3 separate regions of the Homo sapiens genome follow, and regions 1 and 3 are each linked to region 2. Evidence: fine-mapped expression QTL. A gene starts in region 2. Each other region holds a variant in brackets. All regions are shown on one strand. Distances are between the middles of the regions. Region 1 overlaps ZMIZ1 (zinc finger MIZ-type containing 1). Region 2 holds the start of ZMIZ1 (zinc finger MIZ-type containing 1). Region 3 overlaps ZMIZ1 (zinc finger MIZ-type containing 1).

Region 1 (5,217 bases), 230 kb after region 2:
CCCACCCAGCCAGGCCAGTACCCAGCCCCCAACCCCCCGAGGCCACTCACCTCCCCCAACTACCCAGGACAGAGGATGCCCAGCCAGCCGAGCTCCGGGCAGTACCCGCCCCCCACGGTCAACATGGGGCAGTATTACAAGGTGAGTCCCAGCCTCGCCACCACCCACGGGGCCCCTTCCCTCCTAACCACCTCACTCCCCTAACTCCACCGGGATCACTCTGACCCTGCGTGTGTTTGCCCCAAGGACAGCGAGGGGTGGGTGATTTCTGAACGTCCCCATGTGTTCAGGGCGAAGTTCGGTGGCCAGAATGTCAGAGTGGCTTTTCTCAGTTCCTATTCTCATTCGTCTCGGATGATGGTTTTTTTTTCTCCTTTTCTTATTCACGGCACTCACAAAATAATAAAGGAAATATATTTTATTAAAAAAACACACATCCCCTGTATATATTAACATTTCATTCTAAACTTTGTATGTGCAGGTGGGCACTAACATGTTATAAAATTGTTATTACAGCTGTAACTTTGAATCTGTACCTTTTACTTAACATGACATAATAAGGATGATACTTACTGCTACTAGAGCCCCTGGGGTTTTTACTTTTAATGGCTGCCTAATATTCTGCTGAGATCACCATATCATATTTTATTATTCCTTCTGTTAGGTATTTGGGTTGCTTCTGATTTTTCACTTTAGAAATAACACTATGATGAGTATCTTCAGGCATATAGCCTTTCCTTTCCTTAGGATTATTTTCTTGGGAGTAAAGAAGACACTTTATTATTTTACATTTATTTGCCAAAAATCATGCTAATTTATTATGGCCATCTACCAAACAGGTTTACCGTTTTTGCTCCAACTTCAGCATACTAGGTGTTGCTATTTTTGTAACTTCTGCTAAATTAATAGCTAGGGACAGAGAGAGGCAAAATGCCGTCCCTGAGGTGTAGCTGTCCCGCCCTGCTCACTCAATATACCCAGCAGTGGATGGGCCCCTGTAGCATCCCCGTGCTCCTGGTAGATTTTACTGTCCAGAGGGAGAGCGGGCTTCTGATGGCTTTTCTGCCCCCCACTCAGTGTTGTTTATCTTGTTTTAATAGCCAGAACAGTTTAATGGACAAAATAACACGTTCTCGGGAAGCAGCTACAGTAACTACAGCCAAGGGAATGTCAACAGGGTATGTTCCAATTTAATTTACAAATTCTAAGCCACAGGGAGTTGTTGCCTCTAAAGGTTCTCACTGTTCCTGCTCCAGCCTCTCTGGACATTCAAAGGGGCCCATGGGTGGGGGTGCACTCCCTGGTCCCCTGTCCTGGGGACAGAGATGCTCAGGACTGAGAATCCACGGCTCCAGGTGGGGTGAGCCCCAGGGTAAAGTGTCAGCCTGGCTAGTCTTGAAAACAAGGAGAGGGAGAGGGGTTCCTGGGGAACCTGGGCCCCAGATTCTGCAGGCCCCGACTCCACCTGGGGACCCTGATGGGGTAGGCATAGAGGGTGTGGCCTTGAGTCGTGATGTGGGAAGCCCACCTGCTCGGGTGACAGGAGGCCTGGGCTTCATTCCCGCTGTCCTGTCCTCCAAGGGTTGTGCTGAGCAAGTCCCCAACCCTGAGCCTCTGTGTCCCCATTTATCACAGGGATGGGTAAGGGTCTCCACAGGCACCTGACACAGGAGCTCAGTGGTGAGACCCAGATGAAGGGTGGGGAGGCCCTTCCCAGGGCTGTCTTCTGAGCAGGACAGAGATCTGCGAGAGAGAAGAGTTTCCCTGGAGGAGGCTCTCCTCCCGAGGGGCATGGCTCCAGGCCCCTGGGATGAGTGCGGTGTATGTCCATAGCCATGGCCCCTTCTGTCTCCGTAATCCCATAACTCGTGCGTGTCTTTTCTTTCCCTCCAGCCTCCCAGGCCGGTTCCTGTGGCAAATTACCCCCACTCACCTGTTCCAGGGAACCCCACACCCCCCATGACCCCTGGGAGCAGCATCCCTCCATACCTGTCCCCCAGCCAAGACGTCAAACCACCCTTCCCGCCTGACATCAAGCCAAATATGAGCGCTCTGCCACCACCCCCAGGTGAGGGCCCTCCCTCCCTCTCTTGGCAGCTCCACCTGGGCCCCCCAGTGGGCCGGGAGCAGGGGCTTCGCAGTCAGGCTGCCTGGGGAGTGGGCATCAGAAGGGGCAGAGAGTTGAGAGCAGGTGAGATACCCAGGGGCACACTCAAGGCGGGGTAGGCAGCTCACAGACAGCCTTTCTTACTGCTGCCTGGGCGCCTGGAGGCTGGGAGGAAAATCTATACGCAGCCATGGAAGGATGCAAGGAGGCGGGTGGAAGAAGAGGGGATGAGTC[G/T]CTGGGGCGGGGCCGTGTAGAATCGAAGAAGCCATGACTCACTGGTGTGCCCTTGGACTGGCTATGTCTCTGGCCCTGTTTACACACCCCTGCCTTCCTCTGAGCATGCAGCCCAGGGTGAGCAAGTCCCACCTACAGCCCCAGAACCCATGGCAGCTGAGGCTTGTGGCTCACCCACCTCCTCTCCTCGCCCCAGCCAACCACAATGACGAGCTGCGGCTCACATTCCCTGTGCGGGATGGCGTGGTGCTGGAGCCCTTCCGCCTGGAGCACAACCTGGCGGTCAGCAACCATGTGTTCCACCTGCGGCCCACGGTCCACCAGACGCTGATGTGGAGGTGCGTGTCAGGGCAGGGGCGCCAGCCCAGGCGGGATGAAGGAGGTCCCCTGGGATGGCTTCCTTGGGCCCGAGTGGGGCCCTGGGCAGGGGGTAGCAGCATCTTCTGACACCTTCACGTGTTCAGCATCATTGACTGGGCCCTGTCCTGCGGTTGTCATGGGAAGTCTGCAGGTGCACAGGTAGATGAGCAGTCAAGGTGTCGTGGCCCAAGGGCAGGGAGCAGCTGTCACTCACCCCAGAGGAAAAGGTGGCTGGCTCAGACCTAGGCTGGGAAGCTGTGTATCCCATCTGAGACCGTGAGCTGACAAGAGGGAACGCAGTCAAGAATTCGAGTGTGACTCATGTGGCCAGAGCCAGGAATGCAGAGATGAGGCTGGTGCAAGGGCCAGGCCGGGGTCAGGCAGGCCCCATCTATTGCAGGGGGCTGACCATTGGGCAGGGCTGCTGCTCAGACACTTAGGCACGTGCTGGAACACAAGGTCCGGAGGTTCCCTGCTGAGCCAGGCCCATGCTCAGCACCTTCCACGTGTGACCCACTTTGATCTTGGAAATGGGCAACACTTTCCCTTTTGACAGAGGAGGAAGCTGAGGCTAGAGAAGTGAATTGGCTTGTGTGAGTTCTCACAGCTAGCCAGGGGCGGAGCTGAGACTTGGGCCCAGGTCTCCAGGATGCCAGAACCAACCCTGGGGGTGTCCACCCTTCAGTCCTTCATCCTCAGTCAAGACTCACAGTCTCACTGTGCTTGTGACTCAGACCCCCTTGACTGCCCAGTGAGCATCTCCAGCGCAAGAGCTGGGTCTGTGCCTGGCACATGCACACACACCCCTGCTGTTTTCTTGACCATGCTGAGCAGGCTGGGTGAGGTGGCCACAGATAGCTGGTGTGGGCGTTCAGAACACAGGAGCTGCAACGCTCAGGCAGGAGGACAGAGGTCCCTGGCACGGGACAAACCACTGTGCTGCCTGCCTGCACCCTGCTCACCCACGCTCCTTAGCTGGGAGTGTCCTGGCCTGGGAGGCCTCCTCTTCCTGGCTTGCTTGTCACACATATATGGTCACTGCTGGTTCCTGACACTCCTCAGTGCTGCGTCCTTGGGGGGCCTCCTTGGGGAGTGCTCAGAACCAGAAATGGCCGTGGCCTGGGAGGACAGCTCCCAGCAGGTCTAGAGATGGGGTTGGCTGGCCTCACAGCAGGTCTTGTCAAATGAGTGCCTGTTCATTTGCCCCTCTGTCTCTGTCCTGGGGATCCAGGAGTTGACCCCTACAGGGAGGACATTCCAGGGAGATGGGAGCTAGAGCTGTGGGGTGTGATGGGAATGATTGGTGTGCGGGGGTCTTGGGGGCAGTTTGGGTGTAGAGGGAGTATCCAGAATGGGAGAGGAGAACTCAGGCTGGGGGAATCATTGGGGTCAGGGATGGGGTCCTGAGGATCTCGGAGGTTGTGGTGTGTTTAGAGGTGTGTGACCTGGCTCGGGGTCACGGAGGCCATGGACAGCCCCCTGGCAGAGCTGCCCTGAGCACCCTCGTTCCCCACCTAGGTCTGACCTGGAGCTGCAGTTCAAGTGCTACCACCACGAGGACCGGCAGATGAACACCAACTGGCCCGCCTCGGTGCAGGTCAGCGTGAACGCCACGCCCCTCACCATTGAGCGCGGCGACAACAAGACCTCCCACAAGCCCCTGCACCTGAAGCACGTGTGCCAGCCGGGCCGCAACACCATCCAGATCACCGTCACGGCCTGCTGCTGCGTGAGTGTGGTGGGCCAGGGGCAGCGTTGGCACAGGCAGGCCCTGTTTCACGGCATGAGAGTGCGGAATACCCTGCCCCACTCTGGTCCTCAGCCTTGTCCCTGCGTCACCACCCCCGTGCCCACAGCCGCCAAAGATACAGCGTCCCCTTACCTGTGCCCAGGGCCTGTGCAATAACCTTCAAACCGTTGGGCCTTCAAAGCCACTGTGCCCTGGCTTCAGACGTGGCCTCTTCCCCTGGACACTCAGCCTCCGTCTGTTCTCCACACATGCTTCCGATTCACCCCTCCTGGCCCCTCCTCCCTACCCTTCATTCATTGGTGCAGTTCTGTGTTCCTCAAAGCCATGTCCTGCTTGCCTCATTCACCAGCAGTTGTCATTGTCAGCACCTTTTCCCCCAGACCCAACGCCCCCAAACCTGGAGTTAACGCGTTCCCTTCTTTCCCAACCCCCTTGTCTTAGAGTCACGTATGGGGGTCCTTCCAACCCGTGACTTGTTACCTAGGACCAGCTCTCAGCCACCCTCATGTCCCCTGAAGATCAGGGCCCAACACACAGGGCTTGCTCAGGCCCCAGTGGAAGTAAATTGCCTGCCCCACTCCACTGGCCTCTCTGTGGAGGCATGGAGAAGGAAACACTCTGATCCACCCTTGTGAGCTTAGGGGCACGGAGGCTACACAGAGATAGGGGTCACAGACCTGGGCAGCACATCCCATTCTGGCTGGGGAATGTGATGTGCTGTGTGAGGCTGCACAACTGTCAGAGTGAGGCGGCTGATGGGTGGACG
Region 2 (5,217 bases):
TACTAAGTTGAGCCTACTTGGCTCCTCTGCCCTCTGCAGCCACTTCCTGGGTTTCAGATGTAAATACTGGTGGGAGAGTAGGGGGCTGGGATGTGGGGTAGGGGGTGGAGCTTCTGGACAGGAGACTTTGAACATGAGTGGTCACCTCCGAGGTCACCTGCATCCCCCAATTCCTGGAAGTGGGCAGGCCCTGGATACTTATTGAGGAATCTGGACAGAAAGGTTGAGAGGGCTGGGCGTCCAGACCTAGCTGGTCATTAAGGCAACAAGAACTGGTCTAATTGTGGGCTGGGCTGGATTATCACATCCCAAATCCTTAAATACCCAGAAACTCTCTTTTGGGATTTTGGACCTGGGTATGGGGTGGCTGCTGCCACTGCTGCAATGCTGTGGATTGCTGGGAGTGGGACAGCTGTGGCTGCAGCCACCGTTCTGCAAGCTTAATTCCTACCTTCGGAGGTTTCTCAGGTGGCCCTGGTGTACCTACCTGTGAACTTAGGCCACCCACAGGCTGAGGAGGGGCTCAATCACACAGCAATGTGCTGGGACCATGACTCCCTGGTGTCCCTAGAGGTCTGGAAGTGCTTTCATACCACCCACCCTCTCCAGGGATGCTCAGCTGCCACCTACAGGGAGGGCGGGGGTGGAAGAGCAGCAGTCATCACAGTCCATGTCCATGTGACAGGTAGGAAGACTGAGGCCCCAAAGGAGTGCCTTTTCTTGCACCCAATGGCATAGGGAGGCAGAATTTCCCCTGGGGAAAATAAAATAACGCCCCCACTCCGCCGCCTGCGCCCCCACACACCCCGTCCCCCACGCCCGGGTGGACCTAAGCAGCAGTTTTCTGAGCTTTCAGGAATTCCAGACTGAGTTCACTGGCTGTGAGACTAGCGGAGCCTTGAGAATGAATTCAAAGCTGGCAAATTCATTTTGCCTCCTCTCCCTCGGTGGTGGAAGGAGTGATCTCTCCGGCTCTGAAGGAGTTCAAGCCGAGGTCAGCGAAGCCCTCAGAAGGATGTTCTAAAATGGGGGTGGGGGGTAGTGCTCCGGCCTGCTTCCCCGGTTGGCCCAAGGTCCGCGCTGATCACCGCCCAAGAGGCCCAGGAGACCCGCAAATCTGTGCTGCACGTCCGCACTCCCATGCGGGCCTCGTCAATCAGGAGGCGGCTCCGGCCAGGCCTGGACATCTTCGGCCCGCCCCAGGCCCCGGGGGAGACCCCCGCCTGGGCCGCCTCCGGGTGCCCGCCCCCCGGCGGTGTCATTGTTCTCTGACGTCACGCCTCAGCCCCGCCCCTCTCCCCCCACCCTTCCTCCCCCACCTCCGGCTCCCCGCGCCCCCGACCCTGCAGCCTCCGAAGCCCCGGCCGTGCAAGGCTCCCCCCGCAGCCCGGCCGGGGCTGCGCCCCCTTGCGCTCTCCCCAACTTGCCTTTGTTATTCCAGCTCCCTTCCTCGCCTCGCCTCCGACACGGTGGCAGCCTGCAAAACGTGGAGCGCGGAGTCACTGCCACACCTGGAATCCGAAGCGGGCTCCGCCGGCTCCCGGCCGAAGCCGCCCCCGCCTGCCGGGGAGGGGAGCGCGTGCGTGGGCGGCGCGTGTGTGTCCAAAGAGGGCTGCGCGGGCGCCAATTATGATTGGGACTGGGGGTGCCGAAAATCAGGGGTGGGGGGCCTCGAGGAAGGGGTATGGAAGAGGAAGTGGGAGAGGAGGGCGTGTGTTTGTGTGTGTACGTTAACGTGAGGATTTAGTGCCCAGGGGAACGTTTCGTGTTTTGTTTTTTGATTGTATGTGGGGTTGTGTACAGCGATGTGTGTGTGTAACTGCGTGTCTCTGAGCGTGCCTGCTGTGGCCGTGTAAGCGGGCATCTTTGTGAGGGAAAGTAAGCGAGTGTGTGGGGGCGCGTTTGTGGTTTGGGGGGGAGCGTGTTTGCAATGCTGAGGGAGCGAACGTGTGTGCCGTTCTTGTAGGAGTTTCCGTGAGAGTGGCAGTGGACGTGAGCCAAAGTGGGCGCGTAGTTGGATGCTCTCGGGGGGGGGGGGTGGGTCGGCTAGGGGAACTCCCGCGAGTGGGTGCACCCAACTGCGCCTCGTGAGTACCTTAGCTCTCCGCTATCTCTGGCAGTGCCCAGTCCGGGGCAGAGGGCCAGGCCCCAGCCTAGCAGCTCCCACGCAGCCCGCGCGCACAGCGCCCCGGGCGCTCCGCGCCGGGCCTAGGGGAATCCACGCGTCTCTGGACTGTGCTAGGTGCCGCGGATCAACTGTGGCCACCACACCCCCGCTCCCCCACAGCTGTCGGGGGGCCGCGCTCTAGTCTCCCTCAAAGTCACCCTTGGTGGTGGTGGTCCTCTTCCCACCCCAACCACCAGTCCCCGGGCTGTAGGAACAATTCCAAAGTCAACCCCAGGGGAAGGCTTTGGAGGTCCAGTTACCAACTCGCTTACCCCAATTCGGGTACCTGACAGCGCCCGGGGCCACGAGTGCACTCCAGGCGGGGGCGTGCCAGCGCGGGGCAGGGGCTCTCGGGTGAGCAGTGTGATTTTGGCTTCCTCCCCAAGGTGGTCCCTACCTAGGCTCAGCATTTGTTCCCCTCTCCAAACTTACTGGGGCTGGGGCCTGCAGGGGGGCTGGGGGCTGCAGGGGGCGTCAGGGAGTAGCGGAGGGAGTAGGGCAAGGAGAGAGGTGAGTGGACTGGTGGCGTAGCGGGGAACCAGGAGCCAGGAGAAGAAAAGCTGGGAGAGCGCCGAGACCGAGGAGCGAGGAAGAGAGGAAGAGAAAGGAAAGGAAAGGCGAGGGAGAGAACGAGGAGAGGCGAAAAGGAAAGGGGAAAGAGAGCGCAGAGCGCGAGCCAAGCCGAGCGCCGGCAGCGGCGGCGGCGCGGCGCGGCGCTCCACTCCGGCCTGACTCCGCACCGGCTTTTGCGGGCGGCCGGCGGCGCGGGGCCCTTTGGAAATAGAATAGCCAATGTAATCTGACACTTCAACTTGCTCGGCTCCGGGCGAGTTGATTCACTTACTCACCCCCTAACGCCGAGTTCCTTTTCACTGTCTGTGGACATTAAAAAAGCGAGCGGCGGCGGCGGGCGCCGGGGAGAGCGGGCGGCCGGGCGGCAGGCGGGCGAGCAGCGATCGGGCGGCCGAGCGAGCGAGCAACGCCGGCGCAGCGCGGTGACCCCAGCCCCAGCCGGCGCGGAGCAGGAGCCGGAGCCGAGCGGATCTCGGCGCCCTCGCTGCGCTCCTCCCGGCCCGAGCCTGCCCTACCCGGCGGTGGCGGCGGCGCGTCCTCCAGCGGCGGCAGCGGCGCTCGCAGCGCCCGGTAAGTTTGGGGCCAGAGCCAGGCGCCCGCTGGCTCCGGGGCTACCTCCCGCTCCCCGGGGACTCTCGGGGTGCAAGCGTGGGGATTGGGTGCTGGGGTTTTTCCCTTAAAGTGTCCCCCGGAGCGGGGCGACCGGCCGGCGGCGCGGGCTCCGCTCCGCTCTCCTTGGCGGCCGGGGGCCGAGGCCCGGCGGCCGGCGAGCTCCCGGCTGCGCGGAGCCGGCTTGGGCTGCGCGTGGGGGCCGGGTTTGTCAGGGTGTGCGGGGCGTAAGTGTGGTCGTGCGCGCGCGGACCCGGTGCCCGCCTCCTGCCGGCGCGCCTCCAGCCCTCGCTCCCTACACCCGGGGGCCGGGCAGGACCGGGAATCGGAGGAGGGAGGGAAGGACCGCCTCGGTCTCCTTCGCCTCCTCTGGGGAGATGCGAAGTTGTGCGCCTGTGTGTGTACAGGAACCGCTGGGGAAAGCGCTGGATTTCAGGATGGCAAGGGGTGGTGGTGTTAACTTGTGCGTCTGAATTTCCAGGGAAAACATACACTTTTGTAAATGGGAGGTGGGGGCGCGGTTAAGTTGTTTGTGTGGGAATTGCCCGGGGAAAGCTGGCGCGCGGTACAAACGAGAAACGCGGAGGTGTGTGTGCAGGGTTTTCTCCCAGGGCTTCGCAAGCCAGAGGGGCGCTCAGGCCAGTGCCTGGACGGGGCTGCCCCGGCCAGGAGGGGAGCCCAGGGGGAAGATGTGCGTGTGTGTGCGCGCGCGCGTTGCAAATACGAAAGTAATTTCCCCGTGTTCTTTCTTCCTCTCCGTCTCCGGCGGCGGTGGCCCCGGGGGAGTGGGAGGCCAGCCGGGGCGGAGGTTGGGGGGCCGGGGCTGGAGCCGGGGTCGGGGGGGGGAGGCGGGTTCTGGAAGCTTGCTTCACATTCCTGGCGTCTGGGCTGGGGAAAAAACAGTGGGGAGCGCGGCCTCGGCGTCTAGGGCGCGGGCAGCGGGCGCGCGTCGCCCCCTCGCTGGGGACATCTGTCCAGGAAGCCGGCCGGGCGGGGATAGGGCGCGGTGCGGAGGGCAGGCTCCCCGCCCTGGAGCGGTGGGGGCGCGGGCGAGGGGCGGCCGCCTTCCCGGCCATTGTGCGCCAGCAGATTTTCACGGGAGACTGCCCCGGAGCCGCCGGAGAAGGCCGGGAGCCGGCCTCAGCCCCGGGTTTAAAAGACACTCCAGGAATGTAAACAACCCGGGCGGGAGGGCGGGCGGACGGGAGCGCGCCAGGGCAGCCGGTCCGGGCCCCCCACCCCTCCCCGGGGACAGCCGGTCGGCACTGCCGCCCAGCCCTACCCCTCTACCTGCAGCAAACTTTTTCCTTCTCTGCCTTCCCTTCCCACCTCGTCCCTCCAGCAGGTCACAGAGCGAGGGCCGCTCCCAGGTGGGCCAAGGGTGCTTGGTACCCTTGCCTGACCGGGGAGGCCTGACGGCCGGGTCCCTGCTTCGGTGCCCGGAGCCCCGGCTGCGCCTGCCCGGGAGCCGTCAGCTTCCTGGGTAGGCAGTGCCCGAGTAACTGGGGCTTTGAGCCTGCCCGCCTGCCTCCCTCCCTCCCTCCCTCCCGCTGCTCCTTCCCCCGCGCGCTCTCCCCCTTCTCCTCTCCCCTGACTGCTTTTCCAATGCCCTGACATGAGGGAGGAAGATTTAACTTGGCAGCCCAAACAAATGTTCTCTCAGAGGTCCTCCAAGAAGCTGGCGGCTGGGCTGGCGGGGTGAGGGCACGGCTCGGCCAGCCTTTCCCTCCTCTCTGCTCTGCCACGGACATTTGGAGCCCTCTGGGTGGACAGCCCAGGGCATGGGAGAGTAGGGCCCAGCCCCAAAGATTTAAAAGGGCAGTGGGCGGCCGCCTGTGGAAGCCCCTGGCTCCGCGCCGGGTGCAGAG
Region 3 (5,217 bases), 220 kb after region 2:
GGACGTCTGTAGGCTCACTCCCTGTTTTGTCCTCATCACTGGCTGCAGTGGGGCTGCCGTCTATACTCACAGATACCCAGGATACTATACAAGAGAAGGTGGCCAGAGAGGCCTGGCAAGGTCCAGGACCAGTGCCTGGGCAAGTAGGGCACCTTCCAAGTCCCTGCAGTGACCTGGACTTGAAGCCAGTGAAGTCTTTCAACCTCCTTCTTCCAGATTTTTAATGAGTGGTTTAAAAAGCCATTTGTGATTAGCACATTGTCCTTATGCAGATCAGTGTTGCAAAGGTAATTAAAGGCCTAATAAATCTTGTTTATGCTGTTAATTTGATTACAGTCAAAACTCGCTAGGGCTGGGGAAGCCTCCAAGATTGAGAGGTGCCTTCCTCCTTCTTATAGGTGCGGGATTTATGAACCCCAACAGAGAGGCTTCTGGGCGGGAGGGCCCCTGGCATCCCCTGAGTATAGCAGGTCGGGGAACAGGCCCTGGAGCCAGGCTGCTGGGCCTTGAGTTTCAGCTGGGCCATATTCTAGCTGGGTAACTGGCCAGTTACTTACCCTCCTTGTGCCTCGGTTTCCTCATCTGTAGAAGGGGAGTGACAACAGTGGCAGGAGTGGTGTGCTTGTCGCCAAGCCTGGCACACTGGGAGCCCATGGACCAGTCATTATTCCCCTGATCCTCAGCCAGGTGCCATCAAATTCTTAAGTGCTTATTCATGGCCAAACAAGAAAGAAGGGGGCAATCAAAACCAGCCACATCACACCATCTCCACAGCTGCCATTTTTAGCTCGGTTTTGCATAGCTTCACCAAAGCTCAGTTTATGTTAGGGCTTTGTTGCCCCAAGAACATTTTAAAAACAAAAAAAGAAGGAAAGGGGAGAATTGAAAGACCCATAAATCCCTGCACCATCAGTTCCAGATGGCCAAGATGCAAAGGATTTTTTCCTTTCCTCCTTCCTACTGAAAAAGTTTTAACACCCTCTAATATGCAGTTAGCTGCACAAGTTCCTAAGTTTCACCGCAGGGAGGGAAGGAAGTAGGCCCCAGTAATTGTGATGATGGAGAACACTGTTAATGGTTCCCCTAAATTAAACAGGGTGGGAGCTTCAGCTCCTCACTGGCTTGGCATTTCATTAGCAGTAACACTACAGCCTTGCACGGAGACGGGACCAGTATGGCTGGATCAGGGAAATTAATTAGAGTCTGACAATACCCTTAATGGAAATTGGTTATTTCTCCCAAATAAAGCAGCTATTACAAGTGCAAGGGAAGAAATAACTCAGCCCTCCCCCCGCGTTCCTTTCATGAATGTGTGTGTAGATGCTGCCATAGCGGGTGCACAGGAGCCAGGAATCATCACTGCCTTATCCCAGGCCTTGCTCATTTTCTCACATTCAGCAAAACCTCGATCATTGCCCGTGGAGCTGGCACAGACATGTAAACTGTCTACTGTGACTGCAGTGCAGAGAGCTCTCTATAAAATACGTGAAAAAAGTGCTGAGGGAACAGAGGAAAGTGTCCTTGGTTCTGCTTAGGAGGGTCCTTAAAGGGAGTATGCAGGCTGGGCTTTGAAGTATGGATAGAAGTTTGCTGGCTGGTGAAGGGAAGGCAGAAGAAAAATGAAGAAAGTCTCAGAGGCTTGAGAAGCACATTTTTTCTAGTTGACAGGTAGGAATGAAAACGGCTCCTCCCATTGGTAGCATATTTGAAAAATTCCTAGGCCACTTTCATTGTATCCTGAAGTAAACAGGGGTAGCTGTGTATGGCTGGTTGGAGGACTGGAGAGAAAGGTGTAAGTACAGTTGAGCAGGGTCTTTCTACCAGGTTCTGTGCTAAACTTTACTTTTTTCTCATGTTTCTTAGGAAAGTGTTAGTCCCACTTTACAGATGAGAAAGTTGAGGCTGACTGAAAGTAACATGTCCAAGGCCACAGAAAGCTTCAGTGGCAGAGCCAGGGTTTGACCCGGAAGACTGTAACTCCAGAGCCCACATAGGGAACCTCTCTCCTGCTGGGCCTCCCTCTGTCGGCTGAATATTAACCTCAAAAAGGGGTCCCTGAATCTTTGCCAACACGGCCAGTACAAGCTAAAGCAGACGATTTAGTGTATAAAGAAATTCTTTCCTGGAAGACTATTTGGGTTTTCTCTGCAGCTGGGCTTTGAGGCCCATCTTTACATTTCCCCTGTCCCTTCGTGCTAGGCGACTTCCCCAAGAACCCCCAGGAAGATGCAGCCCTTCTTGGAATTCTTGTGGCTTCTAGGTGGCCTCTGCAGTGTGCTCCCTTGCCTCGTGGCCATCTCTGGAGAGGGGAGCGTTGCCTTGCTGGATCCTAAGTTCCTAAGACAGTGGTGAGCCTGATACGGTCTGGTGACCCGGCAGCCTTGCCCTTGATTGGCTCTGCTACCTCTGTGAGCCCCAGCTTCTAAGATGGGCATCTGTTGGGCCCACTTAATGGGGCACTGAATGAGTTCTTAGGTGAAGGCCACTTCACAAAATTCCTTGCATCTAGAAGTCACTCAGTAAATCAGAACAACAGTAACAGCGGCAGCCAGCAGTTTCAGGGTGTCCAAGGTGTGCGGGACTCTGGGCCTCATACATGTTAGGCACTTACACTTAACCCTCACGGCAGCCTTCGAAGGGAGGGGCTGAATCAGCCCCATTTCATAGATGAGGTTGCTGAGGCATACAGAGAGTGAGCAGTGGTTTCATCGCTTCCCTCTGTGTCCTTCTCTCACTT[T/C]CTGGGCCCCAGTGGCCATGTGGCCACAGACACACTGTGTAGGTGGTCGGTCATCAGGCTTAACGAAATGGACATATTCATTTTCAGCATCACTCCAAGGGTGAGTGCAGAGAGGTGGTTTCTCCCTGGCACATTTTTTTGTTTAGCAAAGGTTTCCTGAGCCCTATTGGTGTGTGAAGACATCATGCTTGGCTCAGGGAGCCCAAGAAATCAGTGACAGCTCCTGAGGCAGAAGGGAGAAGGCAGAGGGTTCTCACTCTTGCCAGGAATGCGAAGAGCCAGTGGAGTTCAGTACCTTCTGCAAGGGCTTCCCGGAGGAGGTGGCCTTTGGAAGAGCCTGGAAAGGATGAATGGCATTTTCAAGGTGGGATGGAACTTGCCAGCCTGAGAAGAGGCACAGAGGCCCCTGTATTAGGGAGCAGTTGGCAAATGGAACCGTTGCTGCTGACATTGCAGATGGCTTCTGGCCTTGGTGCTTCTGTGGGTGGAGCAGGATTGTTGGGGCCGTTTTGGCTGGACAGGACTGTGGCTGGGAGCAGCTTATGGTGTGATACTGGGCAGGCCATGCTGGATTAGGGTTGTACAGAGTGGGACAGAATTATTAAAAAATGCCAAGCACCTGTGACCAGGTGAAGCAAGTCTGCAGGTTAAACTGTGCTCGTCGGAGAGAAGAAGGGCTCTCAGGCACCCTCCAGACCCTCCTCCCATCCCAGCCAGGCCATGCCTTTCTGGTAGCAGCCCAGGGGTCTGCTTGGTCCTTCATCCTTGGGAACAGGGACCAGGCATTCCCCCGGTGGTGGTATCTTGAGTCTAGGCAGTGGCGTCACATCAGCAGGGCTGCTGTGGGGGCCTGCGGGGGCGAGAGCCTTCTCTGCGACAGCAGGAGCCCGTCTCCCCCAGAATGAGATGAGTCACGGTCCTGTCGGTGCGGCTGCCACTTCTGCTTCTGCAGCAGGTGCGTGTGGAGGCAAGCTAGTCCTGAGACTGCCCCACACGCTGTGCCTGTCTCTTCCCCAGTGCACGGGCAGCATGCCAGCAGGGCCTCGCGTGTGTGCACGGATGTGTCCTCCATATGCCTGCGTGCATCTTTGCTCTGGGGCGGCAAACCTTCCAGCCAGGCAGTGGGATGGCCAGTTTGGGAACGTTGGTTAGCTTTGCTTCTCACCAAGTTTGGGGCAGAGGGGACAAAACAGGAAGGAGCTGGTTTCCGCCCACAAGGCTCACCCACGGAGCTGCAGGGCAGTTGGGAGCTTGTTCGTGGGCCTGTGTAGCGTCCTGGGCTGAGGTGATGAGGCAGCAGTTGCCCACTCCCTGGCCACAGGCAGGGCCCTGCCGGCCCCTGGGGCCTCCCATGGGGGTTCATTTCCTGAGCCTGGCCAGGCATGTTCTCAAAGGATAGGAACTTCCGTCTCAAGGCCATCAGCCTGGAGGGTTGGTGGGAACTTGTGGGGCAGAAGTTCTGGGGCGAGAAGCCACTCAGGCTTGGGTTTTGTTCAGATGTAGGGGACCCCCTCTGGTCATCCAGCACACCTAGGACATGGGCCTTGAGGACAGCAGGTGTCCAGGGGATCTCCTCTTTGTTTTGTAAAAGCGTGACCTGTAGAGCCTCCCTGTGAGACTCTGGTGTGCCAGTCTGGAACCAGGTGGTGTGCCGGGTCCCCAGTGACCTCCCTGGGAGACAGAGGCTGTTCCAGCCCAGCCTTCCTGAGGAGCAGGCTCATGGCTACTTTCCTGTGTTTCTCTGCACTGCCCACTCCCTCTGGGCTCCCAGTCTCCAATCCGCCACCTGGAGAGCAGAGTCTGTCGCTATCTGTCACCTTTGGCCCAAGCATCTGGATCTTCAACAAGCCACTACCCATCATTGTGCCTGGCCAACTGAGTGCCCTGAGTACAGCTCCTCTACTCCAAATGCGAGTCCTGCAGTTTCCCCAGAAATCACGAGCAGCGCTCAGTTGGGAAAGCCCTTTGACTGCATTCTCCTCTTTGAGCCACATCAGATTTAGGCTGCTGAACCTGTGTTCAAACCTATTTGACCAAGATCCACGATAAATACACATACGACACCTTGACCCAAGGTGCACATGTATTTGTGTATAAAACCAAGACAGAAGCTCAAGGACTAATCTTCATCTTTATTGTGTGCTCACACTCCATCACTTTCTAGTTGATGCTTTTTTCTCCCCTGCTGGTTGGATGTCATCACCTGCTCAGATTCTGTAACCCACAGTTGGAAAACACAGAGTAGAGTGGGGAGGTATCATCTGATGCCCATTTTACAGATGAGGAGATTGAGTGAGGAAACTTGCACCAGGGTCCTAAGCACAAAAGTCTCTGCCGTCACAGAGCTGTTCTAGAGGCAGACAGACAATAATCAAAAAAATATATAATTAGGACAGTGGTGGAGTGCTATGAAAAAAATTCCAGTGCCAGGGTGAGGGGGCAGGCAGTGTCGGGTAGGAGCTGCTTTTTTATACGAGGAG

Evidence for each region. PIP is the estimated chance that this variant, and not a neighbour inherited with it, causes the effect.
Region 1: its variant is fine-mapped to the expression of ZMIZ1 in whole blood (TOPMed, PIP above 0.99).
Region 3: its variant is fine-mapped to the expression of ZMIZ1 in blood mononuclear cells (TOPMed, PIP above 0.99).

Annotation. Positions count from the first base shown.
Region 1 is chr10:79,296,513-79,301,729 of GRCh38, forward strand. ZMIZ1 (zinc finger MIZ-type containing 1) reads left to right here. Exons shown (of 25, transcript NM_020338.4): 13 at 1-141; 14 at 1,101-1,178; 15 at 1,894-2,068; 16 at 2,538-2,679; 17 at 4,220-4,430. Among named protein-coding and RNA genes, the nearest start is that of PPIF, 48 kb to the right of the region's middle. The variant G/T (reference allele first, on the strand shown) is at 2,342.
Region 2 is chr10:79,065,961-79,071,177 of GRCh38, forward strand. ZMIZ1 (zinc finger MIZ-type containing 1) reads left to right here and starts at 3,006. Exons shown (of 25, transcript NM_020338.4): 1 at 3,006-3,310. ZMIZ1-AS1 (ZMIZ1 antisense RNA 1) reads right to left here and starts at 1,488. Exons shown (of 10, transcript NR_024431.2): 1 at 1,428-1,488; 2 at 488-626. RefSeq lists silencers at 1,047-1,256, 1,297-1,346, 1,447-1,656, 2,457-2,526, 2,787-3,766, enhancers at 1,920-2,765, 3,967-4,016 and a cis regulatory region at 2,639-3,324.
Region 3 is chr10:79,282,786-79,288,002 of GRCh38, forward strand. The region is part of intron 8 of ZMIZ1 (zinc finger MIZ-type containing 1); the gene reads left to right. Among named protein-coding and RNA genes, the nearest start is that of PPIF, 62 kb to the right of the region's middle. RefSeq lists enhancers at 2,213-2,332, 2,783-2,972, 3,186-3,836, 3,383-4,002, 3,837-4,487 and cis regulatory regions at 2,447-2,947, 3,435-3,935, 3,533-4,033, 3,549-4,049, 3,558-4,058. The variant T/C (reference allele first, on the strand shown) is at 2,738.